Linked DNA regions of Homo sapiens: regions 1, 3, 4, 5 and 6 are each linked to region 2. Evidence: fine-mapped expression QTL. A gene starts in region 2. Each other region holds a variant in brackets. All regions are shown on one strand. Distances are from middle to middle.

The links.
Region 1: its variant is fine-mapped to the expression of POLR2C in transverse colon (CEDAR, PIP 0.95).
Region 3: its variant is fine-mapped to the expression of POLR2C in whole blood (TOPMed, PIP above 0.99).
Region 4: its variant is fine-mapped to the expression of POLR2C in whole blood (INTERVAL, PIP above 0.99).
Region 5: its variant is fine-mapped to the expression of POLR2C in whole blood (INTERVAL, PIP 0.97).
Region 6: its variant is fine-mapped to the expression of POLR2C in whole blood (INTERVAL, PIP 0.98).

The regions. Positions count from the first base shown.
Region 1 is chr16:57,373,638-57,378,715 of GRCh38, forward strand. All of the region lies in intron 1 of CX3CL1 (C-X3-C motif chemokine ligand 1), which reads left to right. Among named protein-coding and RNA genes, the nearest start is that of CX3CL1, 3.7 kb to the left of the region's middle. RefSeq lists an enhancer at 4,954-5,078. The variant G/GTGGA (reference allele first, on the strand shown) is at 2,803.
Region 2 is chr16:57,460,670-57,465,669 of GRCh38, forward strand. It overlaps POLR2C (RNA polymerase II subunit C), which reads left to right and starts at 2,010. Exons shown (of 9, transcript NM_032940.3): 1 at 2,010-2,141; 2 at 2,360-2,409. The coding sequence starts at 2,056. It overlaps COQ9 (coenzyme Q9), which reads left to right. Exons shown (of 9, transcript NM_020312.4): 9 at 1-601. RefSeq lists an enhancer at 1,868-2,162.
Region 3 is chr16:57,521,596-57,526,683 of GRCh38, forward strand. CCDC102A (coiled-coil domain containing 102A) reads right to left here. Exons shown (of 9, transcript NM_033212.4): 3 at 4,306-4,532. Among named protein-coding and RNA genes, the nearest start is that of CCDC102A, 12 kb to the right of the region's middle. The variant A/G (reference allele first, on the strand shown) is at 3,073.
Region 4 is chr16:57,488,635-57,493,722 of GRCh38, forward strand. No RefSeq gene overlaps it. Among named protein-coding and RNA genes, the nearest start is that of DOK4, 4.7 kb to the left of the region's middle. The variant C/A (reference allele first, on the strand shown) is at 2,487.
Region 5 is chr16:57,432,429-57,437,516 of GRCh38, forward strand. It overlaps CIAPIN1 (cytokine induced apoptosis inhibitor 1), which reads right to left. Exons shown (of 9, transcript NM_020313.4): 4 at 4,228-4,304; 5 at 1,616-1,784; 6 at 59-132. Among named protein-coding and RNA genes, the nearest start is that of CIAPIN1, 12 kb to the right of the region's middle. The variant C/A (reference allele first, on the strand shown) is at 2,605.
Region 6 is chr16:57,403,994-57,409,067 of GRCh38, forward strand. It overlaps CCL17 (C-C motif chemokine ligand 17), which reads left to right and starts at 774. Exons shown (of 4, transcript NM_002987.3): 1 at 774-843. The variant C/T (reference allele first, on the strand shown) is at 2,346.

The DNA.
Region 1 (5,078 bases), 87 kb before region 2:
TGTGTGGGTGGGTGGGCACGTGAGAGTGGTGGAGGCAAATTCCTGCTGGCTTCCTGCTGTCTGGGCTGGGGCCCTGAAGCCTGAGGTGTCTGCGGACAGTGAGATCTGGAAAGCAGGGAGTCAGATGGCGGCTGCTTTGCCACAGTCCTGTTATGTGACCGTGAGCAGGGTCTTGCCTCCTCTGGTCCCAGTTGCTGCATCTTTAAATATAGCTATTACCTCTCCGGTGGATTGGGGGAGGGTGACGAGGTTCCAATGCCTATGGAGGTGTTTTGAAGAGGGCGGAGGAGGAGGATTACTTTTACTAAGCTGAGAGAGGGAAGGGTCCTAGGCTAGGATGGAAAGGGGACACTGGGGGACCCTGGGTGCTCAGACTAGCAGCCTGAGGCTTTAGAACCAGGCTTCTGCCCTCATCTTGGTCATTGGCTTTACTGGAAGATCCTGGGCATTATTGGAACCTTTCTCAGCCTCACTTTCTCCTCCTGTAAAACTAGGCATTTGACCAGGCTCACCTTGGAAGTCCTCTCCCACGCTGACATGTATGGCTCTGAGAGGCCCTCGGGAGCCCCTGTAGGACAAGGGGGTGGTTTGGAAGCCAGAGAGACCCCGAGAGGAGGCTGGGGGGTTCGTAGCTGCTGCCCTGACTAGTGTGGGGCAGCTGCGTCAGTCCCCAAATGTGGGTTTGTGGGGCTGTGTCAGGCAGGAGGCTTCTGTACTTTATATAACAAACCTGCAGCTACGAGTCAGTGCAGAGCATTGCCCCCCCACTCCAAGAGCTGACGCATTCACTCCCACTCAAGTCCTGGCAAGAAAGAGAAAAAAAAACGAATCTGTTTTAAGCTCCTATAGCCTACCCGCCTCATTAGCAGTGGGGGTGGATGGGGAGGGCATGGGAGGATAAATTCAAGAGTGTCAGATCCAGGCCCCTGTCTAATTTAAATAAAAATTCCTCCATTTTTCTGTTGGTTAAGGTATTATGCCACAAAGCGCTTCCTTAGGCATTTTGTCCATTCATTCAACAAATAGTTATTGGACACCTACTGTGTGACAAACCTGGTTCTAGGTACTGGGGCGGCATCAATAAATAAAACAGCCAAGGACCTCAGCCCTCGAGGTGCTGTAATTCAACTGCAGAGGACACATAACACACAAAGTAAATCAGTAAACAATGTGGTCTGTTGGAAGGAGAAAAGGCACTGTGATAAAAAAATAGAGAGGGGTGGCTGGGCGCAGGGGCTCATGCCTGTAATCCCAGCACATTGGGAGGCCAAGGCGGGCAGATCACCTGACGTCAGGAGTTCAAGACCAGCCTGGCCAACATCATGAAACCCTGTCTCTACTAAAAATATAAAATTAGCTGGGTGTGGTGGTGCATGCCTGTAGTCCCAGCTACTTGGGAGGCTGAGGCAAGAGAATCGCTTGAACCTGGGAGGCAGAGGTTGGAGTGAGCCGAGATCGTGTCACTGCACTCCAGCCTGGGTGACAGAGTGAGAGTCCATTTAAAAAAAAAAAAAAGAAAGAAAAGAAAAGAAAAAGAAAAATAGAGAGGGGAGAAGAGAGGTGTTGACATTTTAAATAGGGGGTTAGGGAAGCCCACTGAGTAGGTGGCTTTGCACAGTTTGGAGCGGGGTGAGGGCGGGAGCCATGTGGATATCTCTAGAGCAATGGTCCTCAGTGAGTAATTTTGCTCCCCTATGGGCCATTTGGCAATTTCTAGAGAAATTTTTTACTTGTTACAAATATCCCAATGTTTTTGGTTCAGTTGAGCTACTCGCCTCTAGTGTGTAGAGGCCAGAGATGCTGCCAAACCTCCTATAGTACCCGGGACAGCCCCCAAAACAAAGAATTGTCTGGTCCAAAATGTCAGTAGTGTCACTGTTGAGAAACCTTGCCCTAAGGGAAAAATGCTCCAGAAGTTAAAAAATTCTTATTCTCACAACCACACTGTGAAGCAGGTATTGTCACATCCATTTTACAAGTAAGGAAACTGAGGCTCAGGGAGTCCGAGTGACTTGCTCAGGACACACAGCTGGGCAATGGCTCAAGCCCTCCCTTTATCACCTCATCCAGCAACCCAGGACATTTCCTGAGTCTCCTTCTAAGACCCTGGAAGACTCTTAGAAGTCCTTGAGGTCCAGCCTAAAGGAGAATTCCTCCAAGAAGCCTCCCCTGACCATTTGAAGTTGGAAGTGGTCTCTCCCTCATGTAAACCCCAATATGTTTGTGGTATGTTCTGGAACACTGTGTTTCTACCTGGCATCTAGGGTAGCCTAGAACAGTGGGGTGTTTAGGGGCTGAGTAGAAAACTAGCTCTGCCACCATGCAGCTGTGTGGCACTGGGCACATTTAGCCTCTCTTATTTCCAGCTTCTGCATCTGTAAAGTTGGGATAATACTCCCTTTGCAGGAATGTTGGGAATTAAAGAGAGCAGATGTGTACATGCTGGACACAGGGTCCAATACACAGTAGGTGTTCAATTAAAAAAAATAAATAAAACCTCTGATACTTTGTGTGCCTAATTTACCTGTCCATCAGGCTGGGAGCCTTCTGAGGCCAGAGGCATTCCTTGTTCATCTCACTGTACCTCACAGCACCCAGCACAGGGCCTGGCAAGAGGAACCAGCATTTGTTGGTTGACTGAATAAACAGAGTGATCTGATGGCATTTATTGGGATGGAAGCACTCTCTTCAAACTCAGCACCAGTGCCTATGGGAGAAAGAGCTCAAGGTTAAGGATAAGAGGGCCTGAGATTTTTGTATATACTCAAAAGTAATTCCAGCCAGTGTTGGCTGAATCAGGAA[G/GTGGA]TGGATGGATGGATGGATGGATGGATGGATGGATGGATGGATGGATGGATGGGTGGATAGATGGATGAATGGATGGATGGATGGATGGGTGGATGGATGGACAGATGGATGGATGGAAGAAGGGATGGGGAGGGGATGATGAGGGATGGATGAGTAGGTGAGATAAAAGGGGGCGGAAGATTGACAGGTGGTAGGTAGGGGAGAGGGAGTGGGTAGATGGATGAATGGAGATGAATAGGGGTTGGGCAGGAGGTGGCAGGTGGGCGAGGAATGGGTAGAAGATTGATAAGAGTGGGTGGACGGGTGGATGGATAGGTAGATAGATGCATTAAAGAGAGATAAGTAAACTGAGACTAATTTCATTCAATGAATATTGATTGAGTATCCACCTTGTGCTTGATGCTGGGAAACTATGATACCAAGACAGACAAGGTCCCTGCCTTCCTGACACTCCTATGACAGATAATATATGACTGGCTGGATGAGGCATTGTCTCCATTTACAGAAAGGAAAATTTCAGCTCTGAGAAGGGACAGGCTCCCCAGGTCAGTTAAACAATCTTCCTGGCAGAACCAAGAACTGAGCCGGGCCAGGACCATTCAGGGACCGTGGCAGAGGGTGGGGACTTTGGAGACAGGATGACTCTGTGGCTCTTTAAAGCCCTGGAGGTGGGCAATGGCTTTTCCCATCTTGGATTTGGGGAGCACAGAATGGACCTTCTTTCCTATCCATTGGGCAGCCTCCCTTGCCTCCTCCTGTCTCTGGTCACTCAGGGGCACCGTATTTTCTGGGGCTTCCCAAAGAAGACACCTGCAGGCCATTTTAGGGGACTGCCACCTGGCTCCACTCAATAGGGCCTGGGGAGGCTGCAGGTGAGTCAGTCTGAGGTTCCATTGCAGAAGGAGGGTGGCCAGCCCACACAGTGACTTTTATATCCTGGTTACTCAGAGAGAAAGGACAGCCCTGTGACCTGGGGAGCCCCTCCTGCACACAGCCCCCAACCCCCTGAAGCTACTAGTGCTTCTCCTTGATGACTCAACCCAGACCTGCCGGCCCTAAACCACCTTCCCACAAAGCAGGGTGGGCCAAAGCTAAGGGGGAGCGATGGAGAGAGGAAGCAGCAGACTCTACAAAGTCTCTCTGTGTGTGCAAGCGTGCATGTGCCTGTATTTGGGAAAGTGGTGTATGTTTGCATGGCCACATATATGTAAATATTTATGCATGAGCAGTTCGTGTTCTGGTGGAGCCCAGGGATGCCCTGGGGGTTTCCCAGGCTCTGAAGGGCTAGATAAGATCAGCTTGCTCTCTTGACTGCCCTGGTCTCCAGATGTTTGCAAAACCCTCTGGGGTCTTGCTTTTGCTGCATATAACCTTGACTCAGATCTGAAACTCAAGCTCTTCCTTGTTTTTTATACTCATCCTCCTTGAGCTCAAGCTAAGCAGAAGAAAATTTGCTGGAGATTATAGAGGAAGAGAAAAGGTGGAAATTCAATGTAAACAACTTCAAATGTTTATATCAAATAGTTGGGTTTATTTGTCCTGTCCCGGGGTTTCTCTCTGGTTCCACGTGACACTCAGCTACTGCCTGCCCCTTCCGCCCCACTCTGCCCCCACCTTATTCATACCGTCCATCTCCAACCCTCCTCCTTACTCTTCTTGCTCCAGGAATTTCAAATGCCTCTTCCCTCCTAGGCAGGATGACTCAGTACCTTTCAGCAACTGCTCTCGGGCTCATTCTGGCTCTCAGCAGCAGAACAAAGGATCATCTATTCAGCAGACCCCACCTTCCTTAGAAAGCAGTTGTACTTATATATTTTTTAAAAAGTTTATTGCTGGGCATAGTGGCTTACATCTGTAATCCCAGCTATTCCGGAGGTTGAAGTGGGAGAATCACTTGCGGTCGGGGTTCAAGACCAGCCTGGGCAACATAGCAAGACCCTGTCTCTTAAAAAAATTAGCCAGGCATGGTAGCAGGCACCTGTAGTCCCAGCTACTTGGGAGGCTGAGGCAAGAGATCTCTTTTTTTTTTTTCTTTTTTTTTTGAGACGGAGTCTTGTTCTGTCACCCAGGCTTTAGTGCAGTGGTATGATCTCAGCTCACTGCAACCTCTGCCTCCCGGATTCAAGCAATTCTCCTGTCTCAGCTTCCCGAGTAGCTGGGACTAAAGGTGCACACCATCATGCCAGGCTAATTTGTGTATTTGTAGTAGAGACAAGGTTTCACCATATTGATCAGGCTGGTCTCAAACTCCTGACCTCAGATGATCTATCTGTCTC
Region 2 (5,000 bases):
AGATTGAAAGAGCTTTGAAAAGTATAAGGTGCCATCCACATAACCTGGTGTTCACGAGAACACACTAAAGGACTCCTGAGTCACTACCACAGCCACCTGGAAACCACAAGGCATTTGATGCTACCGTTCTGGTCAGGGATTGGGCTGCTTCTTCAGTTCCTAATACCAGACCAAGCCTCCTGATGCCTTTCTGCACTGCAACTGTGTGATTGAAAAATGAGATGTTCATCCAAGCAGTCAAGCCACAGAAACCCAGCATGTCCCTGTCACAATCTCATGGGCACCTTGATCATGTCTTAACCTTCCCTTAACCTTGGGGCTCCCAAGCCAGAGTCAAGGTCTGACGCCACCTCAAGGTGACAGCTCATCTCCAGCACAGCACAGGCGTGTGCACACAGAGGTGTTCCTTGCAGCCCCCTCCCTCTCAGGTGTCCTGAGATGCTGTTCCTGGGAGCCCCCTCAGAAAACTGCCTCACCTGAGACAAGTGCCTGCTGGACAGAGGTGTGATTCCAGGCCTGGTGTCACATGACACCAGCATGCATTGCAGGATTATTAGTGTATTTTGAGTCTGTAAAAATAATAAATATGTTTGAAGTAGTTTCCCATTGTGTAGTTAGTTTCCTTATCAATCATGATAGGTATCCAGGACCCCAGAGGGAGACAGGTTAAGTTATGGCAGCCAGGAGACCTGTGTTCTGGCGCTGCCACTGCCTAATACATAGTGGTAATTATAGTACCTCTGCGTCTCTGGGCTCAAGTCTTCCCATCAGTAAAATACGGGTAACAGAAGCCTTCCCACAGACCATCAGCTCCCTTGGCTGCTCTTGTCTGACGATTTTAGTGGTACATTCTTTAGCCCCAGTAATTTTCTCAGCCTCTACACTGGCTGGGTTCCCTTTGCACGTCTGGTTAGCTCTGTTTTCTGCTTTGCTCTCTTCTGCCTGTCAGCTGAATATTAATGGGGGAAAGTCAGCAACTAATTGAATTTCAGATCTCTTGTGGGTCTTCCACTGGATCTTTTTTGCACCTCTCAATTCCTTGTATCTCTTGACATCCTGTGAAGTTTTCGCAGTAGCTGTTCCAGTTTTCATTGCATTCTCCTTTTTCCTTCATAGCATCCATCTTACACTCAGCAGACAACCATAATTCTTAATTTACCAAGATGACACAGGTTATGGAGCAGGGTTCCATCAGTGCCCACCCTCTGTTTCAGGAAGAGGTGTCACTCTTTGCAAAGGCAAACTCCTCTTTATCTGGTTACTCTTCTCCCAACTCTTAAATGTATTTCCTGCCACGTTCTATTTTAGAGCTTTTCTCTGTTGGAGCAGCAGCCACTTTTTTTGAGGCCCATTTAAACCTCTCTCCAGTCTGTTTAGGGGACTTCAGTAGTTCTTTGTTGAGCATGCACCCCACATGGTGCCCACTGCCAGGCACTGGGGATGCAGAGACAAAGAGTTCCCACTCACCCACCACAGCTACACAGACTGTAGAGGAAGCATTAGGTTAAAGAACATTGTATCTTTTCCTGAAGTTTTCAGAAGTGCATGGTCCATACTTGAGACTGCAAGGGAAAGGGTATTTACTTATAATTCAGGTATACTTTGCTAAAATATACATTCATATTAAAATATACTTTTGTTTTTCTATAGATGTACAAGTTCTTTTTAAGTGCTTCATAGTATTCCATGTGTGTATACTCCACCAGGTCTCTTATCAATGGACAGTACAAACAGTACTACCACGAACGTCCCTGCACTCGTATCTTTGTTTACAACTGCAAGTGTTTCTGCAGTATGAATTCTTAGAAGTGTTACTGTTAAGTGAAGGACGTATGCGTGTTTTGCCAAACTACCCTCCGAGATAGCTGAATCTGGTACATTTTAAAGCAGGAGGCCGCAGAAGACGCTCGGCAGTTCTGGCCTCCGAGCAGCAGGCGGCGCTGTGAGTCGTCTTTGCGGAAGCCGCGGAGGCCTCGCTGACTGACTTCCGGTGTTGGCGGTGGCGCCGCGCAGTCACCGCGGAGCAGACGCGGAGGCTGGTGGCCCCTGGGCGAGATGCCGTACGCCAACCAGCCTACCGTGCGGATCACGGAGCTCACTGACGAGAATGTCAAGTTCATCATCGAGAACACCGACCTGGCGTAAGGCTACCGAGGGAAGAGGCTGGCGGCTCTGGGGCGCCGGGAGGCCCAAGCCGGGGCCCCGGGGCAGGGGGCGGGGGTGTAGTGGGGTGGGGTGGGGGCGATGTCCTTCCAGAGCTGCCCCCCTGCACCAGGGCTTTAGCTTTGGGAGCCTGCGGCGCGGGCCCAGCCTGTCGAGGCTGCAGCGCCTTCACGCCCCTTGGCTTTTGATCTTTCAGGGTGGCCAATTCGATTCGGAGGGTCTTCATCGCTGAGGTTCCCATAATAGGTAAGCGACTCCCCTTCCTCGTTCCCGCGCCCACGGGTTCCTGCCCCGCTCTCCACCCACACACTCTTTGGGGCTCCTTCCAGTCCTTGGTTCGGGCTGAGGGTGGTAGTGCTGAGAAAAGTGCATTGCTGGAGACTTGACCATACCCTGTGCCCTTGGCTCAGTGGCCGCCTCCCTGGCGCCCACGGGCCACTTAGGTCCACCCTTGTCCTGGGTATGCATTGCTGAGAAGCATGGGTTTAGCAGTGTGCAGACTTGGGTTCAAATACTGTTTTCACTACTATTGTTACAAAAGTTTTTAAAATGTTTTCAACTTTTATTTTGGAGTCAAGGGGTACATTGGTGCAGGTTTGTTGCCTGGGTATAGTGCGTGATGCTGAGATTTGGGGTATAAATGATCCTTTCACCCAGGTAGTGAGCATAGTACGCAATAGGTAGTTTTTCACCCCTAGCCCCACTGCCTCCCTTCCAGCTCTAGTAGTCACCAGTGTGTTTATTGTCATCTTTATGTCCGTGCGTACCCAGTTTTAGCTCCCATGCGGTGTTTGGTTTTCTGTTCCTGTGTTAATTCTCTTAGGATAATGGCTTCCAGGCCGCGCTCGCGCCTGTAATTCCAGCACTTTGGGAGGCCAAGACTGAGGAACACCTGAGGCCAGGAGTTTGAGACCAGCCTGGCCAACATGGGGAAAGCCCGCCTCTACTAAAAATGCAAAAATTAGCCAGGTGTGGTGGCTCCCACCTGTAATCCCAGCTACTGGGGAGGCTGAGGCAGAATTGATTGAACCCAGAAGGTGGAGGTTGCAGTGAGCCGAGATCATGCCACTGCACTCTGGCCTGGGCAATAGAGTGAGACTCCTTCTCAAACAAAAGAAAATAAAAAAGAAGATAGTGGCTTCCAGCCACGTCCATGTTGCTGCAGAGGACATGATTTCGTTCGTTCTTATGGCTGCATCACTTACTGCTTTTGTGAAACTTGGGCAAGTTATTAAACTTCTGTGTGCTGCAGTTTCCTCATCTGTAACATTCGGCCACTAATGATCCTTATCAGGGTAATGTTAAGGATTAAGTGAGGTAATCCATATAAGTGCTTTGTGTTTAGTGAGTGCTCAGTGCTGGTAGATGGCTTTTTTATTAATCTATTCCTTCAACAGCATTTATGGAGCATGAAAGTGGCAGGCATGGTGGTAAGCTCTGGGAATGCAAAGCTGTAGAGAACAGGGTTTTTGCCCTCATGGAGTCCACAGTGAGGTTGTAGGGGAGAGATGAATCCACAGACAACACTAAAGCAAGGTAGATTTTGATCAGTAGTTCAGGAGAAGCATAGCTGTGGTGCACTTGGCTCTTAGAGGAGGGAAGATCAATTTCTGGTCTGGTTCCAGCCACTCTGCTCCAGGTGCTTAATGCATTGATTATACTTGTATGAAATACTTCAAGCATTTCTGAGAGTCAGCTCAGAGAGTTTGGATTAGGCAAAATAAATATAAGTCATAGCTGTGGCATCAAATATTCAGACTTTTAAGGAAATAAGCAGGCCAAATGATTAGGCAAGAGAACATTGTAGTTTATCCACTACCACCACCACCCCACCCCCCCGCCCCCCAGTCACTTCTTAAATTCAGCTTGGAGTGCTGGACCTCCCCCTGCCTAAGCACTTCATGCCTCTGGACCTCAGTTTCATCAGGAGTCAGGTGAGGGAGTTGTACTTCATGATGCAGCCCTGCCATTCTGAGTCTAAATGCCTCTTTCCCAACAAATTCAGTTCTACAAATAATATTGAGCACCCATGCTAGGAATACAAAGACATCCCAGGACCTGCGTGAAGGAATTTCTGAAGCTTGAGGTATAGACATAACATACACAAATATGACACAAGGCACACTATGACAAGTGTCTTGAGGGAAGTCTGAACAGAGTTTTGTGAGAGAGGAGTTGAAAGGGAGGGAATGTCACATCTGTAGCATAGAGAGCAGGCAAGGCTTAGTTTTCAGGAGGCACAGAGGATCTTAACCTGTACAGCAAGGAGGGGAAGGGTGTGCTGGAGGGAAGGGCTGGGGGATTAAAGAGGCAGAAAAGCTTGGGTCAGGGTTCTCTCAGTTGGCTTGGACTGGGGAAGCAATGGGAAGCATAGCAGGACAGAGCAGGTGGAGGCCTGGCAGGGGGAGGTCCTCTTCCGACCGCTGTTCCTAGTGTCTGTGTCCCTCGTTTGGCAGTTGGGCTCCAGTGCCATTTGATTCCTGGATTTAGTTGGTTCCATGCAAATGTTTATGAATGAATAAATGTGTGTTTAAGTCAAGCATGTGTGATCGATAATACAGTCTTTACCCTCCTACGAGCTCATTGCTGCTAGGGATTGGGTTCTATATTTAGTATACTTTGCGCATTAAAAGAATTCAGTAAACATTTGTTGATTGAGTGTTTAAAAAGTGCTAAGTTGGGCAGTCCAGTCATTATATCCTAAAATGAGGTATGGCCCCATAAGTCTGTGTTGCTTCTGTGAGGGTTTCCCTGACTTTGAAGTGCTCAAATAGTTCATGTTCTTGGATTTAGTGGTGGCACAGGTAGCAGATTTAAGTGCTTCTCATGCAAATACT
Region 3 (5,088 bases), 61 kb after region 2:
TCCCTGCAAGGCTTGGTCTGAACACATGGTTCTGCAGATAGAAACACTGGAAAACACTGTCCAGTGACCCGAAGAGAGGGTTCTCTCTTGCCATCGACACTGTGTGGGATCCCTACATCCTCCCATAACCCCCACCCTGCCTTGATCTTGAATAAGGCACTGTAGGTAACAAGCATGATGCCTGGCCCTGGCAGAGTAGGTGCTCACCAATGGCTGAGCTCAGCATCACCTTCCAGCACGCTGCCCTTCATGACCCCACACCACACTGGCCTCTCTCTCTGAAAGTGGAACACTCCATGCCTCCAACATGGGGTTCCCAGAGGGGACAACGTCACCCTGTAGGAGGCATGTTGAAAACCCATGGCAACATTTTTGGCTATCACAATGATTAGGGGTCATTTAGTGGACGGGGGCCAGGGTGCCTGACTCCCTGCAATGCCCTGGGCGTCCTGCCCATCAGGATGCATCCTGCATCCTACTGAATGCATGCACAGCCCACTGGACATTGCTCGGGGTAGAGATGATCTGAGCCTACAGCCTCATTCTGATTTACATTGAAACAGAAAGTAATTTTTATACTAACATACACTGAATTTTCTAGGAATGGAATCACTGTATAAACTGAAGGAAGACTGCACTTTTCTTTGTTTTTAGAGAGAGGATCTGGCTCTGTTGCTCAGGCTGGAGTGCAGATCACAGCTCACTCCCTGGAACTGCACTCCCTACCCAAGTGCAAGTGCCCAGCTCATATTGTGGGGAGGTGGTCAGGGCTCCAGAGCACTGGGCATCTCTGGGCAAGTACCTCCCTCCTGCTGTACCCCAGGCTCATCTCTTAAAGACTACCCTGTTCCTGTCTGTTCACAGCTCACTGCAACCTGGAACTCCTGGACTCAAGCGATCCTGCCACCTCGAGCTCCCAAAGTACTGGGATTATAGGCATGAGCCACGGTGCCCGGCTGCACTTTGCTTTGTTCAGAACTTTACCAAAGGCTGTTCATCTCTCAAGAAAGCGCATCGCAGTGACACCACTTGTGTCTTTGAGTTGCTAAGTCTGCACACCTGCATGAGCCGCCTTTGTAGCTGTCCTGCGAGGTGACTTAAATGTGCAGATACATGTAAGCCTTCAACACAACACCTGACTCGGAGCACATGCTATGTCTTTGCTGTTATAACTATCGTCACTATCATCCCATTTAAAGACACCCACTCTGACCACTTCACCATTTCTTCTAGAGGAGCTATGCCCAAGCACTCCCATATCACAACACGTGTATTTTAAGTTACTTTCAGGCTGGGCGCAGTGGCTTACACCTGTAATCCTAGCGCTTTGGGAGGCCAAGGCAGGTGGGCTCCCTGAGCTCAGGAGTTCGAGAGCAGCCTGGGCAACATGGTGAAAACCTGTCTCTACTAAAATACGAAGAATTAGCTGGGCGTGGTGGTGTGTGCCTGTAGTCCTAGCTACTCGGGAGGCTGACACATGAGAATTGCTTGAACCAGGGAGACAAGAGATTGTAGTGAGCTGAGATAGAGCCGCTGTACCCCAGCCTGGGCAACAGAGCGAGACTCTGTCTCCAAAAAAAAAAAAAGTTACTTTCACTTCTACTTTATATTTCAGTTAGTGCACTAGGTTGATTTTTTTGCTTGTTTGGCTTAAACAGTCTAAATTTATTCTCTCATATTTCTAGAGGCTAGAAGTCCAAGATCAAGCTGTTGGCAGGACTGGTTCTCTGAGGGCTGCGAGAAAGAATCCGTTCCATGCCTCTCTCCCAGCTTCTGGCAGTTTGCTGGCCATCTTTGGTATTCCTTGGCCAAAGATGCAACAATGTCCGCAAAAGCATCACCCTGACCTCTGCCTACATCTTCACAAAGGCATTATAGTGATTTTTTTTTTTTTTTGAGACAGCGTCTCTCTCTGTCACCTAGGCTGGAGGGTACTGGTGCATTCATACAATCACAGCTCCCTCAGCCTCGACCTCCTGGGCTCAAGCGATCCTCCCGCCTCAGCCTTCCAAGTAGCTGGGACTACAGTGGCACAGCCCCGTTCCCAGCTAATTTTTTTTTTTTTGTAGGCCAGGCACAATGGCTCATGCCTGTAATCCCAGCACTATGGGAAGCTGAGGTTGGTGGATTACCTGAGGTCAGGAGTTCGAGACCAGCCTGGCCAACATGGTAAAACTCCGTCTCTATGAAAAATACAAAAATTAGCCGGGTCTGGTGGCTAATTTTTTAGCCACCCTCTGGGTTGTCCCCTCTGGGAACCCCATGTTGGAGGCGTGGAGTGTTCCACTCTCAGAGAGAGAGGCCAGTGTGGTGTGGGGTCATGAAGGGCAGCGTGCTGGAAGGTGATGCTGAGCTCAGCCATTGGTGAGCACCTACTCTGCCAGGGCCAGGCATCATGCTTGTAACCTACAGTGCCTTATTCAAGATCAAGGCAGGGTGGGGGTTATGGGAGGATGTAGGGATCCCACACAGTGACGATGGCAAGAGAGAACCCTCTCTTCGGGTCACTGGACAGTGTTTTCCAGTGTTTCTATCTGCAGAAACATGTGTTCAGACCAAGCCTTGCAGGGAACATAGTCTACAAAACAGACAGGAGCAGGGTGGTCTTTGACAGCCCTTCGAGAAGAACAAGGTGGGCCAAGGAGTGGAGTGGCCAGTGCTGGGGCCGCCACCTCCTGGAGCCATTTTCAGATGAGCCTGAGGTGCAGCAGGAGAGAGGTACTTGTCCGGGGATGCTCAGTGCTCTGGAACCCCGACCACCTCCCCACAATGTGAGCTGGGCACTTGCACTTGGATAGGGAATGCAGTTCCAGGAGAACTACAAAGAACATGCGCCAGAGGCATGGTGGCACATGCCTGTAATCCCAGCTACTCAGGAGGCTGAGGCAGGAGAAACACTTGAACATGGGAGGCAGAGGTTACAGTGAGTCGAGACTGTGCTACTGTACTCCAGCCTGGCTGACAGAGTGAGGCTCTGTCTAAAAAAAATATATATATATATAGAGAGAGAGACAGGGTCTTGCTGTATGGCCCAGGTTGGCCACAAGCAATCCTCTTGCCTCGGAATCCCAA[A/G]GTGCTATGATTACAGACATGAGTCACTGCACCTGGCCATTATATTGATTTTTTAAAAAGGAGTGTGTAGATAGGTTATGCTATTGTCGTATTTAATTTCTGGACAGAAAAACTGCAGAATATTCATTATCATCAAGCTCGTGCCCTCTAAACTGCTCTGATCAAGGTCACTGGTGACCTCCACATTCTAAATCCAATGGTCCAGGGCTCAGCCCTGTTCTTACTGATCACTCTGTCCTCCGGGAAACGGTTTCTTGTGGTTCCCCTTCCCAGCCCGGCTCCCTTCTCTTGTCTCCTCTGCTGTTTCCCTTTCCTCTAACTGACCTCTAAACTTGGCACTTCAGGGCTGGATCCTCTGACCAGTTCCCTATCCACACTCATTCCTTGGCCCTTGTCCACGCTCATCGTTTTATTTATTTATTTATTTATTTATTTATTTATTTATTGAGACAGAGTCTTGCTCTGTCGCCCAGGATGGAGTGCAGTGGCACAATTCCGGCTCACTGCAACCTCCACCTCCCGGCTTCAAGCAATTTTCCTGCCTCAGCCTCCTGAGTAGCTGGGATTGCAGGTGTCTGCCACCACGCCTAGCTAATTTTTGCATTTTTGGTAGAGATGGGGTTTCAATTCACCATGTTGGTCAGGCAGGTCTCCAACTCCTGACCTCAAGTGATCTGCCCACCTCGGCCTCCCAAAGTGCTGGGATTACAGGCGTGAGCCACTGCGCCTGGCCCAGCTCATGGCTTTCAATATCATCTCTTCACTGGTGACTCTTGCATTTTTACCTCCAGCCCAGGCCTGTCTCATGAACTCCAGACTCATTCACATCCCCAGCTGCCTCCCTGCCATCTCAAACTCACACGTCCAAAACCAAGGTCCCAGCTGCAACCTTCCAACTTCCCTGTCTCCATTCCCTGCTTTTACCCTGCCCACAGCCCTCTCCCCCAACTAGAAAGTACGTTTCAGGAAGGCAGGGGCTTCTGTCTTATTTACGGCTGTATCCTCAGGGCAGAGCACAGTGCCTGGCCCAGAACAGGTGCCTGGTAACGTATTATTTGAATGAATAAATAAAAACTTGCACTGAGTTCTTGGGTGGAACACCACTGCTCTACAGTTCCAAGATACAGTCTAAACACTACCTGTCATCTTCGTGAGTCTAATGTTCTGTGATTCTGAGGGCGTTGTAGCACGGCCTGGCCCTGGCCCTGCCCCCTCCCGCCTCCCACGACTCACTCTCGCTCCTTGAGCAGCACCTTCTGGGACTCATCCAGCCGTAGCCGCAGGGCGGTCAACTTGGAGGCCTCCTCCTCCGTGGCAGCTGTGTCCTCCCAGGGTAGCCGGCTGCGCTCCTGGCGGCCTGAGCTGCCCCGCGGGCCCCCAGCCCCCAGGCTGCGCGCCTCCCAGCAGTCCTCAGACTCCTCTGGCATGCTCTTCAGCAGGCTCTCCACCAGCTCCAGTTCCTGCGGGGACCAAGGTGGAGGCTGGACCAGTGGCCGCCAAGCCAGGCCCTGGGTCTGAGATCAGCTTGATGGGTAACCTTGGGCAAGTCACACAGTGTCTCTGGGCCTCAGTTTCCTCTTCTGCTGCCTGCCTCTCCATCTCTGGAGAAGGAAGACACACCCTGCTCTGGGCCTCCCCTTTCACCTCCTGGAGCTGCAGAGTGTCAGCCACCATGGTTCCCTGTATCCTAGAAGATTCCCCAGGAGAGGTGGTGAGCTCCCTGTCACTGGAAGTATGCAAACCTACGGCGGGGCACCGATGGGAACAAATGTTGAAGCAGGAATTCCTATAATGGCTTAAGCCTAGATTCCTTCCAAAGGAATTCTAGCTCTAAGATCCTGTTTTTTCAGGGGCAAATAGTAAGGCATGGGGAGACTGGTGACACAGGGAAGCAGTGCCTGTGAGGAGAGCCAGCTCCCAGACAGGAAGCAGTTGAGAAATTAGGAACCCAGGGCCGAGCCCCTTTCCTTCTTGCCATCCTGCCCTTCTTCTCCGCCCCGCCCATCTCCAAGGCCT
Region 4 (5,088 bases), 28 kb after region 2:
AGACTCTCATTGAATTGCTTTTGCAACTTCGTAAAAAATCAGTTGGACATATTTCTGGATTCTCTGTTCTATTTCACTGATCTGCATGTCTATCTCTCTGTTAATAACAGTCTTGATTACTATGCCTATATAGTAAGTCTTAAGGCCAGGAGCAGTGGCTCATGCCTATAATGCCAGTACTTTGGGAGGCCAAGGCGGATGGATTACTGGAGGTCAGGAGTTCAAGACCAGCCTGGCCAACATGGTGAAACCCCATCTCTACTAAAAATACAAAATTAGCTGGGTGTGGTGGCGTGTGCTCGGGAGGCTGAGGCAGGAGAATCGCTTGAACCTGGGAGGCAGAGGTTGCAGTGAGCCAAGATCGCGCCATTGCACTCCAGCCTGGGCAAAAAGAGTGGAACTCTGTCTCAAAAAAAAAAGTCTTAAAATCAGGTAGACCAGTGGTCCCCAACTTTTTGGCACCACAGACAGTTTCATAGAAGATAATTTTTCCATGGATGTTGTGGGAGTGTTTTCAGCATGATTCAAGCACAATACCTTTATTGTGCACTTTATTTCTATTATGATTACATTGTAATATATAATTAAATAATTACACAACTCACCATAATGTAGAATCAGCGGGAGCCCTGAGCTTGTTTTCCTGCAATTAGACAGTCCCATCTGGGGGTGATGGGAGACAGTGACAGATCATCAGGCATTAGATTCTCATAAAGAGCCTATGACCTAGATCCCTCGCATGCACAGTTCACAATAGGGTTTTGTTCCTATGAGAATCTAATGCTGCTGCTGGTCTGACAGGAGGCGGAGCTCAGGTGGTAATGTGAACAATGAGGAGCGGCTGTAAATACAGATGAAGCTTCATTCATAGCTGCTCACCTCCTGCTGTGCAGCCAGGTTCCTAACAGACCACAACCAGTACCGGTCTGTGGCCCAGGGATTGGGGACCTCTGAGGTAGATTGTTATTAATTCCTCCCAAGTTATTGGTTTGTTTGTTTGCCACAAGGTTTCACTCTGTCCCCCAAGCTGGTGTGCAGTGGCATGATCATAGCTCACTGCAGCCTTGAGTGCCTGGGCTCAAGGAATCTTCCACCCTCAACCTCCTGAGTAGCTGAGACCACCATGCCCAAGTAATTTTTTAAATTATTGTGTAGAGATGGAGTTCTTACTATGTTGCCCAGGTTGGTCTCAATCTCCTGGCCTTAAGTGATCCTACCAGCTTGGCCTCCCAAGTGTTGGGATTACAGGCATGAGCCAATGCGCCCAGCCCCAACTTACTCTTTTTCAAAATTGTTTCAGCTGTCCTGGTAATATTCTCTATCTTTCTATGTAAATTTTAGAATAATGTTATCTATATCTACAGAATATCTTGCTGGGATTCTGATAGAAATTACATTAAACCTGTATATCAATTGGGGAGCATTGACATTTTTACTATGCTGAGTCTTCCAATTCAAGAACACAGTATGTCTCTCCATTTATTTATTTATTTCTAATGTCTTTCATCAGCATTATGGAGTTTTCAGCATACAGGTCCTATACACATTTTGTTAGCTTTCCACCTAATTATTTTATTTACTTATTTTTGGTGATTTTAAATGGTATTGCATTTTTAATTTTGCTGCCCATGAATGAGTTCATTGCTGGTATATGGAAATAATTTTTGTATAATTATATTTTGCAACCTTGCTGAACATATTAGTTCTAGGAGGTTTTTGTCTTTTTTTTTTTGGTAGATTCTTTGAGATTTTCTACATAGATAATCATGTCATCTGCATGTAGAAAAGGTTTTTTTCCTCTTTTTCTACCTATTTGTTAGTGGTTTATCACATTGGCTAAAATGTTCAGCACTATGTTGTAGTATGAGCTGACATCCTTACCCTGTTGCTGATCTTCGGGGAGAGCATTCAATTTTTCATCATTAAGGACCAACGTTAGCTGTAGGTTTTTTGTAGATGCTCTTTATCAAATTGTGGAAGTCCTCCTCTCTTATTTTTTGAGAGCTTTTTACCATTAATGAACGTTTAATTTAGTCAAATGCTTTTCTATACTAATATATGATTTTTCATCTTTAGCCTGTTTTTTTGTTTGTTTGTTTGTTAGTTTTTTTCCTTGAGACAGAGTCTTGCTCTCTTGCCCAGGCTGGAGTGCAATGGCACCATCTCTGCTCACTGCAACCTCCGCCTCCCAGGTTCGAGCGATTCTCCTGCCTCAGCCTCCTAAGTAGCTGGGATTACAGGTGCCTGCCACCACACCCGGCTAATTTTTGTATTTTTAGTAGAGACAGGGTTTCACCATGTTAGCCAGGCTGGTCTTGAACTCCTGACCTCAGGTGATCCACCCACCTCGGCCTCCCAAAATGCTGGGATTACAGGTGTGAGCCACTGCGCTGCACCTGGCCAGTTTTCTTGTCTTTCTTTTTGTGCTACCTTTATCTGGTTTTAGTATCAGGGTACTGATTTTATAGAATGAATTGAACAGAATT[C/A]ACTCCTATTTTCTGAAAACAATTTTGTAGAATTAGTATTATTTTTTTAAATGTTTGGTATAATTCTTCAACAAAAACATCTGAGTCTGGAGTTTTAAAATTATAACAATAATAATTTTTTTAAATAAAATGAGATGGGGGCTCTCGTGATGTTGCCCAGGCTGATCTCAAACTCCTAGGCTCGAGTGAACCTGCTGCCTTGGCTTCCCAAAGATATTTCTTTTTTGGGAGTTTTAAAATTTAAAATCTAATTTCCTTAATTGTTACAAGACTACTCAAATGAACTATTTCATGTTAAATGAATTGTAACAGTTTGTGTCTTTGGGGGAAGTAGTTATTTCATCTAAGTTGTCAACTTTACAATAATAATAAACATTACCTTATTATTATTATTATTGATGTCTTCAGGTTTTATAGCAATATTCCTTATTTCACTTCTGATGTAGGTATTTGTGTCTTCTCTGACATTTTTACTCTGTCAGTCTTGCTGGAGGTTTGTCAATTTTATTGATCTGTTCAAAAAAACCAAATCTTTGTTCCACTAATTCTCTCTCTCTCCCTCTCTCTCTCTTTCTCTCTCTCTCATTTTAGATTTCATTGATTTCTGCTCTTATCTTTATTATTCCCTTACTTCTGCTGGTTTTGAATTTATTTTGCTGTTTTTTTCTAGGTCTTTAAGGTGTCAGTCTATCAAGTTTAGATGATATAGAGTTCAGATGACAGATATAAGACTTTTCCTCTTTTCTAAGGTGAAATAAATGTCCATATTAGTGCTGCTTTAGGTGTATTCCACAAATTTTGATATGTTTTACTTTCGCTGTCATTCAGTTCAATGTATCTTTTAAAAAATTCCCTTGAAACGTTCTCTTTATCCATGGATCATTCAGAAGCGTACTGTTTAATTTCTAAGTATTTGGATAATTTCCTGTTCTCTTTGTGTTACTGATTTCTAGTTTGATTCCATTGTAGCCAGAAAAAAACACTCTGTAAGATTTCAATTCTTTTAAACTTGTTGAAGTTTGTTTTATGGCCAGGACATGGTCTATCTTGGTATATGTTCATGAGCACTTGAAAACAAGGTGTGGGCCCGGTGTGGTGGCTCACGCCTGTAATCCCAGCACTTTGGGAGGCTGAGGCGGGTGGATCACTTGAGGCCAGGAGTTTGAGACCAGCCTGGACAGTACGGTGAAACCCCATCTCTACTAAAAATACAAAAATTAGCCAGATGCGCTTGCTTGGACCCAGGAGGCGGAGGTTGCAGTGAGCCAAGATTGTGCCACTGCACTCCAGCATGGGCGACAGAGCAAGACTCTGTCTCAAAAAAGAAAAAAAAGAAAACACGGTATGTTCTGCTGTTCTGAGGTAGAGTGTTCTAAAAATATCAGTTAGATCCTGTTGGCTGATGCTGTGGTTAAGTTCTGCATCTTTTCTGATTTTATATCTAGTTGTACTATCAATAGCTGGAAAGAGGTGTTGCTATCTCCAACTATAAGTGTGGATTTGTCCATTTCTCCTTTCACTTCTATCAGTTTTTGTTTTGCATATTTTGTAGTTCTCTTGCTTGGTGCATGTGTATTAAGGATTTCTTTTCTTTTCTTCTTCTTTTTTTTTTTTTTTTTTTTTTTGATATGGAATCTTGCTCTGTCGCCTAGGTTGGAGTGCAGTGGTGCGATCTCGGCTCACTGCAATCTCCGCTTCCCGGGTTGAAGTGATTCTTCTGCCTCAACCTCCTGAGTAGCGGGGACTACAGGGGTGTGCCACCACACCTGGCTAATTTTTGTATTTTTTGTAGAGATGGGGTTTCACCATATTGGCCAGGCCAGTCTCGAAATCCTGATCTTGTGATCTGCCTGCCTCGCCCTGCCAAAGTGCTGGGATTACAGGCGTGAGCCACCATGCCCGGCCCTGTATTAAGGATTTCTATATCTTCTTGATAGATTGACACTTTTACTATTATATACCGTCCCTCTCTGTCTCTGGTAGTTTTCTTTGCTCTAGAGTCTACTGTGATGGTTAATTTTGTGTTAAGGGATACCAAGATAGGTGGAAAAGCATTATTTCTTTCTTTTCTTTTCTTTCTTCTTTTTATTTTTATTTTTTGCTAATTTATTTTTTTTGAGACAGAGTCTCGCTCCGTTTCTCAGGCTGGAGTGCAGTGGCGCGATCTCGGCTCACTGCAAGCTCCGCCTCCCAGGTTCACGCCAATCTCTCGCCTCAGCCTCCTGAGTAGCTGGGACTACAGGCACCCGCCATCACGCCCGGCTAATTTTTTATTTTATTTTATTTTATTTTTTGTATTTTCAGTAGAGACGGGGTTTCACCGTGTTAGACAAGATGGTCTCGATCTCCTGACCTCATGATCCACCCGCCTCGGCCTCCCAAAGTGCTGGGATTACAGGCGTGAGCCACCGCGCCCGGCCTCTTTTCTTTTCTTTTTAGATGGAGTCTCGCTCTGTTGCCCAGGCTGGAGTGCAGTGGCGTGATCTCGGCTCATTGCAAACTCTGCCTCCGGGTTCAAGGGATTCTCCCACCTCGGCCTCTGGGTAGCTGAAATTACAGGCGTGTGCCACCAAGCCCGGCTAATTTTTATAATTTTAGTAGA
Region 5 (5,088 bases), 28 kb before region 2:
TTCACACCCAAACTGGGGCCTGAAAGAAAGCAATCAAGTGACAATGCTGCCAGCTCACCATGCTGTCGTCCTCCATATCGTTGGCTGAGAGGGTCCACAGCTTGGCAGCAGCAGGGTCCACAGCAGGTTTCACTGAGTCCAAGCAATAAAAGAAAAAACTCCATAAACACAGTCAGAAACTATTAATTACAAACATACATAAATGCTTCCTGCTGTGTAGAAGAGAACACACTGGCCTGGGAGGCAGAAGATGTGGGTTCACAGTCCAGCTCTACCCCTCTGAGAGGTCTGACCTTGGGCCAACCACTTGCTGATAGTTACAGAAGTCACCATTTGCTAAGCTCTTGCTTTGCACCAGGCACCATATTAAGCACTTATATACATTATCTAACTTAATTCTGCTGACAACCTTATGAGGTAACTATCTGTCATCCTACTTTTACCGCTGAGGAAACAGGTTTAGACACTTAGGCTGGTTCCACAGGCTGCAAAGCCTGTCTGATGCTTTTAACCTCCATTCCATATTGCTTCCTCCTCGATACCTTAGTTTCCATTCTATAACATGAAGTTAAATTGTACTTCCTATGTTACTGCAGGTGTTTTGAGGATTAAATGAGAAATGTGTCAAAACCTTCAAAAATAGCAGAGCTTTAGCCTCATGTAAACCTGCTACATACAAGAAAATAGGCTCTAGAGCTGCTGGTGGCAAGGTAACACCATCAGTGGCAGACAAACCTCACACTTCCTGGTTCTCTGTCTAGTCAGGAGAATGCAAGGAAGAGGCAGAGAGCTGAGGCTCGGATGCAGTGTGGGCAAATCCTCGCAGGCCCTTGGGGTAAGAGTACCCTCTAGTGATCATTGTCACAGCTGGATGCTCATACCTTCCACAAGGCCAACTGTTCTAAGCTATTCCTACCCATTCTGGAACCATGAATCGAAAGGTTAGATTCCAAAGGATTTCTTGAAGATTTAGGTTAGACAGTCAAAACCGTACAAGTGGGAATGTACCAGTAAATATCTGTTAATGTCTGCATACCTCACAGCTGGGTCAATTCAGGCATTTAAAAATAGGGATAGGAAGGATGAGGATGGAGCTGTGTGTGTGTGTGTGTGTGCGTGCGCGTGCGTGCACGCGTGTGCTTGTACACAATTTTCTAGTCAGAAGAAATATAGTTTTATAAGTGTCTTAGCATCCTCAAAGTAAGAACAGCTGATTTTCCTGGCATGGGGAAAAAAGCACATGAGAACAGGAACAGGGCACTCTCATACACCATTACCACTACACTGTGAGGTCTTCTGAGGAGAAACGTTAATTCTGGGACCTGGAAGGACCTCATTAATTAAACTGTGTGACTCAGTCCTGTAAAATTAGGAGGCCTCGGTATCTTCTGGTGCAGAAGAAGGAGCTGAACTAGATAATACCTATGTATTATTTCAGTTTTGGATCCTAATATGCCCATGATAATAGTACATTAAGTATTCTTCTTTGTGGAAATGGCAGAAATCAAAGGACTAATCCTCTAAAAATATCACCATCTCATTTATTGCTGGCTCAATTTCTAACATGTCCCTCTAAGCCCATTCAAACAGAAGAATGTCCCTAGGCCAGCCTTACCTGAAGGAGAAGACTTCTTGGTGATGGAAAGCTTAAGCTGCCTAGAAGAACCCACTTCAAAGTTTGGTTTTTTGCCTGTGATCTGAACAAACAGCAGGTTGTCACTTTCATGACCAAGGTGTTCTCGAACAGACTGTACTTCCTCAGGGGTTAGGGGCTCCCGCTGCAGCTAGAATTCAAGACATCAAAAGGATTAGTTCACCCTCCTCTGTAAAATGGTTTACTATGTCTACCTACACAGGAGTCAAAGACTCATTTCTGTGCATTAAGGATGTAACAGTGGATGGTAACAGATAACACTTTATGCCTCACATTCAGTTTCTCACTGATCAGAACCCTAGAGTATAACCTTTGTCTGCATGTTTACTTGGAGCCTACCCCTTGGAAAATGTAAAAGTACTTAAAAAACATTAGGGATGAGGCATATACTAGTTATTTGGGATGTAATACAATTATGAAAATGAACCAGATGTGGTCCTACTGTGTAACAGGAAAGAATGCCCACAATGAAGACAGCAGAAATTTATATCCCAAAAGAAAAAGGGGGAGGAAAATCCTTTCTATGTTCCTTGGGATAAAGTAGCAGAGAGTAAAGGTAGAAAAAAAGGGTCAGGGTGCCACCTCTATGTCCAATAATTATAGACTGGTTACATAAATCACAGTCCATCTATTGTATGGAATACTATTACATCATTAATATGAATGAAGGGAAATACACTGAAGTAGGTAAGTGTCTATGATATCTAAGGGTGGGAAAAAAGGTGATTGAACAATGTATACTTATGATCTTATTTACATTTTTAAAAAAGTATGTGCATGTAGATGCTTGTAAATACATAGGAAAAGGTCTGAACGGACATACAAAAAGGCATTGGTGGCTTCCTCTGGGGAGGGAAGTGTGAGCAAGAAGTGGGATGTCACTTTATATTCTGTATGCTTTGGTGTAAAGTGAATTTTTATGAGGAGTCTGATATAGTTTGGATATGTGT[C/A]CCCTCTAAATCTCATGTTGAACTGTAATCCCCAATGTTGGAGGTGGGGCCTGGTGAGAGGTGACTGGATCATGGGGGCAGATTTCTCATGAATGGTTTAGCACCATCTGAATTCTCATGAGATGTGGTGGTTGTAAAGTATGGCACCTTCCCCACCCCGACTCTTCCTCTCTTTCTTGATCCTGCTTTTGCCATGTGATGTGCCTGCTCCTGCTTCACCTTCTGCCACGAGTAAAAGTTCATTGAGGCCTCCCTAGAAGCCAAGCAGTTGCAGGCCCGTGCTTCCTGTACAGTCTGCAGAACAGTGAGCCAATTAAACCTCTTGTCTTTATAAATTATTCAGTCTTAGGTATTCCTTTATAGGAACAGAAGAATGGCCTAATACACATTCCTTATTTTAAAATCAAGCACAGAAAACCTTAAGCTAAAAGGAAAAATAAGAAAGGGTTGGCATAAAGAATCTAAGGCCTGGCATAAAGAATCTAAGGCCTGGCTCACGCCTGTAATACCAGCACTTTGGAAGGCCAAGGTGGGTAGATCACCTGAGGTCAGGAGTTAGAGAACGGCCTGGCCAACATAGCGAAACCCCATCTGTACTAAAAATACAAAAAATTAGCCAGGTGTGGTGGCGCACGCCTGTAATCCCAGCTACTCGGGAGGCTCAGGCAGGAGAATTGCTTGAACCCAGGAGGCGGATGATGCAGTAAGCAGAGATCGTGTCACTGCACTCCAGCCTGGGCAACAGAGCGAGACTGTCTCCAAAAACAAGAAAAAAAATTAAAAAACAAAGAATTTAAGGCCCTACATTATGTAAGAAATAACAGGCACAACAGCTATCATGCTGTAACATTTACCTCTCCCACATCCAAGAAAATTTTAAGATCAAAGAGTGTAGAAATATAAATACTTCTGCTTAATTTAAACATTTCCACTGAATTGTCAGAAAAGGAACTTTGCCCTCTAACCTATTCCAGCCTCCCACCAAAAATGTGAGGCTGAACTAGATGGCAGTGTTCACCCAGGCCTAGGATTCGGGTCTACTGAGAGGTGGGTGTTGGAAGCAGCAGAGCTGCTGCTCATGCCCCTCAGCTGTCACCACCACTAAACTAGTACCAAGGAGACAAGAACAAGCCCCAGCCCACATGGGCCAAGCTGAGTCTCTTTGAAGTTGGTTATTCTCAAAAGTTTTTTTTTGTTTTGTTTTGTTTTTTTTGAGACAGAGTCTCGCTCTGTCGCCCAGGCTGGAGGGCAGTGGCGTGATCTCGGCTCACTGCAAGCTCCGCCTCTCAGGTTGACGCCATTCTCCTGCCTCAGCCTCCTGAGTGGCTGGGACTACAGGCGTCTGCCACCAGGCCCGACTAATTTTTTTGTATTTTTAGTAGAGACGGGGTTTCACTGTGTTAGCCAGGATGGTCTCGATCTCCTGAGCTCGTGATCCACCCACCTCGGCCTCCCAAAGTGCTGGGATTACAGACGTGAGCCACCACACCCGGCCGATTCTCCCAAGTTTTGTCCTTTGAAGCATCATGTATCTTACATGCACAGCATTTCTTGTTTCCTAGTTCTAAGCAATACTGATTACCTCACCTGCAGGGCAGCAAAGAAAGTTGTCTACAAACGTACCTCTTTCACTTCCACAAGACCAGAAAGAGTCAGGGCTGAACACAGCTTAGATGCTGTCTTCACTTTGCTATTGTTATCTGCCAAAAGGAAAATCCCAATTAATAGCTTTATAGTTCAAAGTAGGAAAAATAATAAAGGCTCAATCCTATATGGGTTCGCAGGCATTCAAACAATAATAACCAGGTGGGCGTGGTGGCTCATGTCTGTAATCCCAGCACTTTGGGAGGCTGAGGTGGACAGATCACTTGGGGCCAGGAGTTCAAGACCAATCTGGGGCCAACATAGCAAAATCCCGTCTCTACTAAAAATACACACAAAAAAAATAGCCAGGCGTGGTGGCACACGCCTGTAATCCCACCTACTTGGGAAGCTAAGGCACGAGAATCGCTTGAACCTGGGAGGCGGAGGTTGCAGTGAGCCGAGATTGCACCACTGCACTCTTGCCTGCACAACAGAGTGAGACTTGATCTCAAAGAAAAAACAAAAAAAAAATAATAACCTATTCTGTTTAATGTACAGATGGTCCTTGACTTAATGATGGTTCTACCTATAATTTTTCAACTTTTATGATAGTATGAAAGTAATACTCATTCAGTAGAAACTGTATACTTCAGTTTTCAGTAAATTACATGAGATACTAAGCACTTTATTATAAACAGGCTTTGTGTTAGATGATTCTGCCCAACTGTAGGCTAACGCAAGTGTCCTAAGCGTGTTTAAGGTAGGCTAGGCTAACCTAAGCAATTGTGTTTAGTAGGTTAGATGAATTACATGCATTTTCATCTTAATAGTATTTATCAGGATGTAACTCCATTGTAAGATGAGGACAATTGTATATATATTTTAGTGATATTATTTTAT
Region 6 (5,074 bases), 57 kb before region 2:
AGGTATCTGGGGACAACATTCCAGGCTGAAAGAACAGTCCGTGCAAACCTCCTCAGGAAGGAGCATGTCTGTCTGGTTGGTTTGAGGCATAGGGAGGAGGCCAGGGTGGCTGGGGCAGAGTGAACCAGGGAACCAGGAGATACAGGTGGGCAGAGAGCAGGGCACAGAACTCGCGGGGCCTCGTGGCTGCTGGAGGGTCTTGGACTTGTCCTCTGCGTGAGGTGGAGAGCCACGGGGACGTTCTGAACACGGGAGATTCATGGTCCCTCTGCTGCTGTGCTGAGAATACACTGTAGGGGGCAAGGATGGAGACAGGGAGAGCACCCAGAAGGCAGTTGTAGGAAGCCAGGGATTGATGCTGGTTTCTGGGTGTATTTGGAAAGCAGAGACATGAGCTCACCCAACAGATGGGAAGTTGGGGGCGAGAGGAAGAGGCGTCAGGGATAGCGCCCAGGTTTCTGGCCCTAGTAACCGGAAGGAAGGGGCTGGCAGAGAAGGAGGAGAGAGCAGGTGTAGGGGTGGGTGGGAATCAGAAATTCAGCTTCAGACTTGGGGGGTTGGAGCTGCCTATTTGGTATGGCGAGTAGGCAGCTGGACGTAGAAGGAGGCTGGAGTTTGCGAGAGAAACTTGGGAGTGGTTGGCATATAGATGATATTTAAAGTCAGAAACGTGTACTATTTGCCAGATATAAGCAGTAAGGCAGTTGATGCAAACCAAAGCCTTCTAATGTAATTATTGTTATTATTTTCATTTTGCAGCTGTAGAAACTGAGGCTCAGAGAGAAGTGACTTTGAGCTCACAGTGTCACCGCCTGCTGATGGGAGAGCTGAATTCAAAACCAGGTGACCTGACCTAGAGTCTTTGCTCCTAACCCCTCCACTGTGAGGTGACCCCCTCGCTGGATCTTTCAGGGCATGTGTTAGATGAGCGGTGGATGGACTTTGGATCAAGGGAAGATAATCCATACAAGAAGGGGACAGGAGTTTGGAAGCAGCAAACCAAGTCACAAAGTGAGGGGACGCACTGGCCCTCAAGAAAGCTCAATGTTGGGGAGCAGGGAGATGAGACTGAATAGGAAGGAGGGGCTAGATGGAAGGTACAGCTTCAAGATTGGCCTGAAAAGTTTTGACTGGATGGGGAAGGAAGCAGGGAGCCATTGACGGTTTTGGAGGAAGGGGGCATTACATGGTCAGGGCAGCCCTTGTGAAAGATCCACCACATGTGGGCATGCAGCTGATGAGGGAGGTGTCAGGAGAGACCAGAGAGGAAGAAATAGGCCCAGAAGTTTTTGAGACTCTCTGGGTGTGAAGGATGAGGGCTGAGCCAGTGGAGATGAGAAGGAAGCAAGGAAGCCAAGCTCCCACTGAAGACAGCGCTGGGCAGAGTCTCTGCCTGATGTAATGTGGGGGATGGAGGCGAGGAATGAGTCAAGGGCAAAGTTTCAGACTTGGGGGCAGATGGGGAGATGGGAAACAATGCTGGCTTGAACAGAAAAAAAGGAGGCTGGTGTGAGAGGGAACTCGGTTTTGCCCTTCTGGTACCTGGGGCTGAGTGAACCATAGCAGGACAGACTTCTGCTTCCCAGCAGCTCACAGGTTAGTGTGGGGGACAGAACTGCACAGAGCTGGCCAGGCTGCAAGGCAGAGAGAGCTGAGGGGTGCCACAGAAAGATGGGCCGGAAGGAGGAGTGTCCAGGTGGGTGTGTCTGATTAGTTACTGGTCAGGGCTGGAGACAGAGATTTAAGAAGTATTTATCAGGCCAGGTGCGGTGGCTCACGCCTGTAATCCCAGCACTTTGGGAGGCCGAGGCAGGTGGATCACGAGATCAGGAGATCGAGACCATCCTGGCTAACACGGTGAAACCCCGTCTCTACTAAAAATACAAAAAAAAAAAAAAATTAGCCGGGCATGGTGGCGGGCGCCTGTAGTCCCAGCTACTTGGGAGGCTGAGGCAGGAGAATGGCGTGAACCCGGGAGGTGGAGCTTGCAGTAAGCCGAGATAGCGCTGCTGCAGTCCAGCCTGGGCGAAAGAGCAAGACTCCGTCTCAAAAAAAAAAAAGAAGTCTTTATCCAGAGGTAAAAGATCTGGGGTAGATGATGTCAGGGAGGAAGGGAAGGTTGCTTGAGGCAAAAACAAAGTCTAGGACAGAAGCCCAGGCTTGCTCCTGCCACCAGCTAGCTCTGTGCCCATGAAGCAGATTTATTTTGTTGTTGTTGAAATGGAATCTTGCTCTTTTGCCCAGGCTGGAGCGCAGTGCCACAGTCATGGCTCAGTCGTGCACCACCATGATTGGCTAATTTTCATTTTATTTTTTTTGTAGAGACAGAGTCTCACTATGTTGCC[C/T]AGGCTGGTCTCAGACTCCTGGGCTCAAGCGATCTTCCCACCTCAGCCTCCCAAAGTGCTGGGATTACAGTGGACCAGTTGCTTAAACTACTCTGGTCAGTTCCTAATTTTCTCATCTGTAGAAACTAATAGTTCTTACTCCCTGAAGCTGTTGTGAGGACAAAGTAAACTAATAGACTTAACTGCTGAGATTCCCCTGCCCCAACACCCACCCCAGCCTATAGTGAGAGCTCAGGGACATTTCTGAGAAGAGGAGCTCACAGGGAGCTCAGGGAAGAACCATGTCCCAAATCCCAGTGGGAGGAGCATCAAGAAGGATGGTAGGTTCCCAGGGATGACAAGGCGATTCCCTGAGCCAGCTGGAGACTAGGAACTTTATAGACTTCATCTCAGTTAGTTTTCCAGGTCATACCATGAGGGAGTGTCTTATCATCACACCCATTTCACAGATGAGAAAACTGAAGTTCATAAAATCGCTGTTAGTCACACAACCAGGAACAAGTAGAAGAGTGACTGGGACTCAGGGCTGTAGGTAATGATTCCAGAGCCTCTGCTGGTAATCACTGCCCAATGTAAGGCAGTGGGAGGTTCAGGGAGTGGCTGGAGGGGATCAAGAGGCTCAGTGAGAGCACCTTTCCTAGAGCATCAGAGCTGGAAGCCACATTGCTGAGGATTAATTAAATCACAAGTGGGCAGAGAGGAAATGGTAGAGGGAAGTACAGACCACACATCGGAGCAGTTTGGTCATGAATGAAAGGAGAAATGGGAGGGCAGCATGCGAGGGTGTTGAAGTCAAGGGGAGGTCTTTATGGAAGTGGAGAGACAGGATCATGTTGTCAGCAGAGGGAAAGGGGGTCATGGGATTGGAGACAGTAAAGAGCTAGAAGATGGCAGTGCAACTGAGGGAAGGAGGCCCCTCTGGGATGAATAAAGGTTGAGATCCAAGCCACAGTTGAAGCAATATAGGTTTGGCAAAAAATGGCCACAACCACAAGGAAGTTGTAAACTAGATGGGGGAGGAGTCAGGGTGTCCTTGGTTAGATTCCTCTGCTTTATCCATGACAGAAGGATTCGGGTGTGTCTCATGAAATGATGGTACACACTGGTTTAAAAACTATTTGGATGAAGGAGGCCCTGGGATAGAATGTGAGTTGGGCCCATGTTGTAGTTCAGAATCTCTAAGTGACCATCCATCTATCCATGCATTCATGCATGTATATATCCATTCATCATCTATCAAGCCATGCACCCATACTTCTATTCATCCATCCAACCACACATCCATCTATCTAGCCATACATCTACACATACACCCACCCATCCATCAGTCCATCCATCTGCTCACCCATCCAGTTTCATGCATCCATCCATCATCCATCAACCCATTCATCCATCCTTCCATCCATCCATCATCCATCCATCCATCCATCCACCCATTCATTCATCCATTCATGTATCCATCCATTCATCCATCCGTCTGTCCATCCATTCATTCATTCATCTACCCATCCATCCATTTATTCTTTTACCATCCATCTACACATCCATCTACCCATCCGTTCATCCATTCATCTACCCATCCATCTATCTATTTATTCTCTCACCATCCGTCCACACATCCATCTACCATCCATCCATCTATCCATCCATTCTTCCATCCATCCCTCCATCCATCCATCTACCCATCCATCCATCTATTTATTCTTTTGCCATCCATCCACACATCCATCTACCATCCATCCATCTACCCATCCATTTATCCATTCATCTACCCATCCATCTATCCATCCATTCATCTACCCATCCATCTATCTATTTATCCTTTCACCATCCATCCACCAATCCATCTATCCATCATCCATACACACATCCACCCATCCATTTATCTACCATCCATCCATCCGTCCATTCTTTCATCCACCTTCCAGCCACTCATCCATTCATCACTCACCCACACGTCCATCCATCATCCATCCTCCATCCATCCATTCACTCATTTACCCATCCATATCCATTCACCCATTCATTCATTCACCCATCCATACAACCACTCACCTATTTATACATTCAGTAAACATATATATATTTTTTGAGACAGGGTCTCACTCTGTCGCCCAGGCTGGAGTGCAGTGGTACAATCATGGCTCACTGCAGCCTCAACTTTCCTGATGTAGGTGATCCTCCCTACTCGGCCTCCAGAGTAGCTGGGACAGGTGCACACTGTAACACCTGGCTATTTTTTTTTTTCGAGATGGAGTCTCACTATATTGCCCAGGAGGGAGTGCAGTGGTGTGATCTCGGCTCACTGCAATCTCCACCTCCCGGGTTCAAGCGATTCTCCTGCCTCAGCCTCCCGAGCAGCTGGGATTACAGGCACACGCCACCACACCCAGCTAATTTTTTTTTTTTGTATTTTTAGTAGAGACAGGGTTTCACCATGTTGGCCAGGATGGTCTCGATCTCCTGACCTTGTGATCCGCCTGCCTCAGCCTCCCAAAGTGCTGGGATTACAGATGTGAGCCACTGCGCCTGGTCATTTTTTTGCATTTTTTGTAGAGACAGGGTTTCACCATGTTGCCCAGGCTTGTCTTGAACTCCTGGGCTCAAGTGATCCACCTGCCTCTGCCTCCGAAAGTATTGGAATTACAGGTGTGAGCCACCAAACTGGCCTAATAAACATATTTTATTGAGCACCCACTAAGGTGCTAAGTCCTGGAGGGATAAGTTGG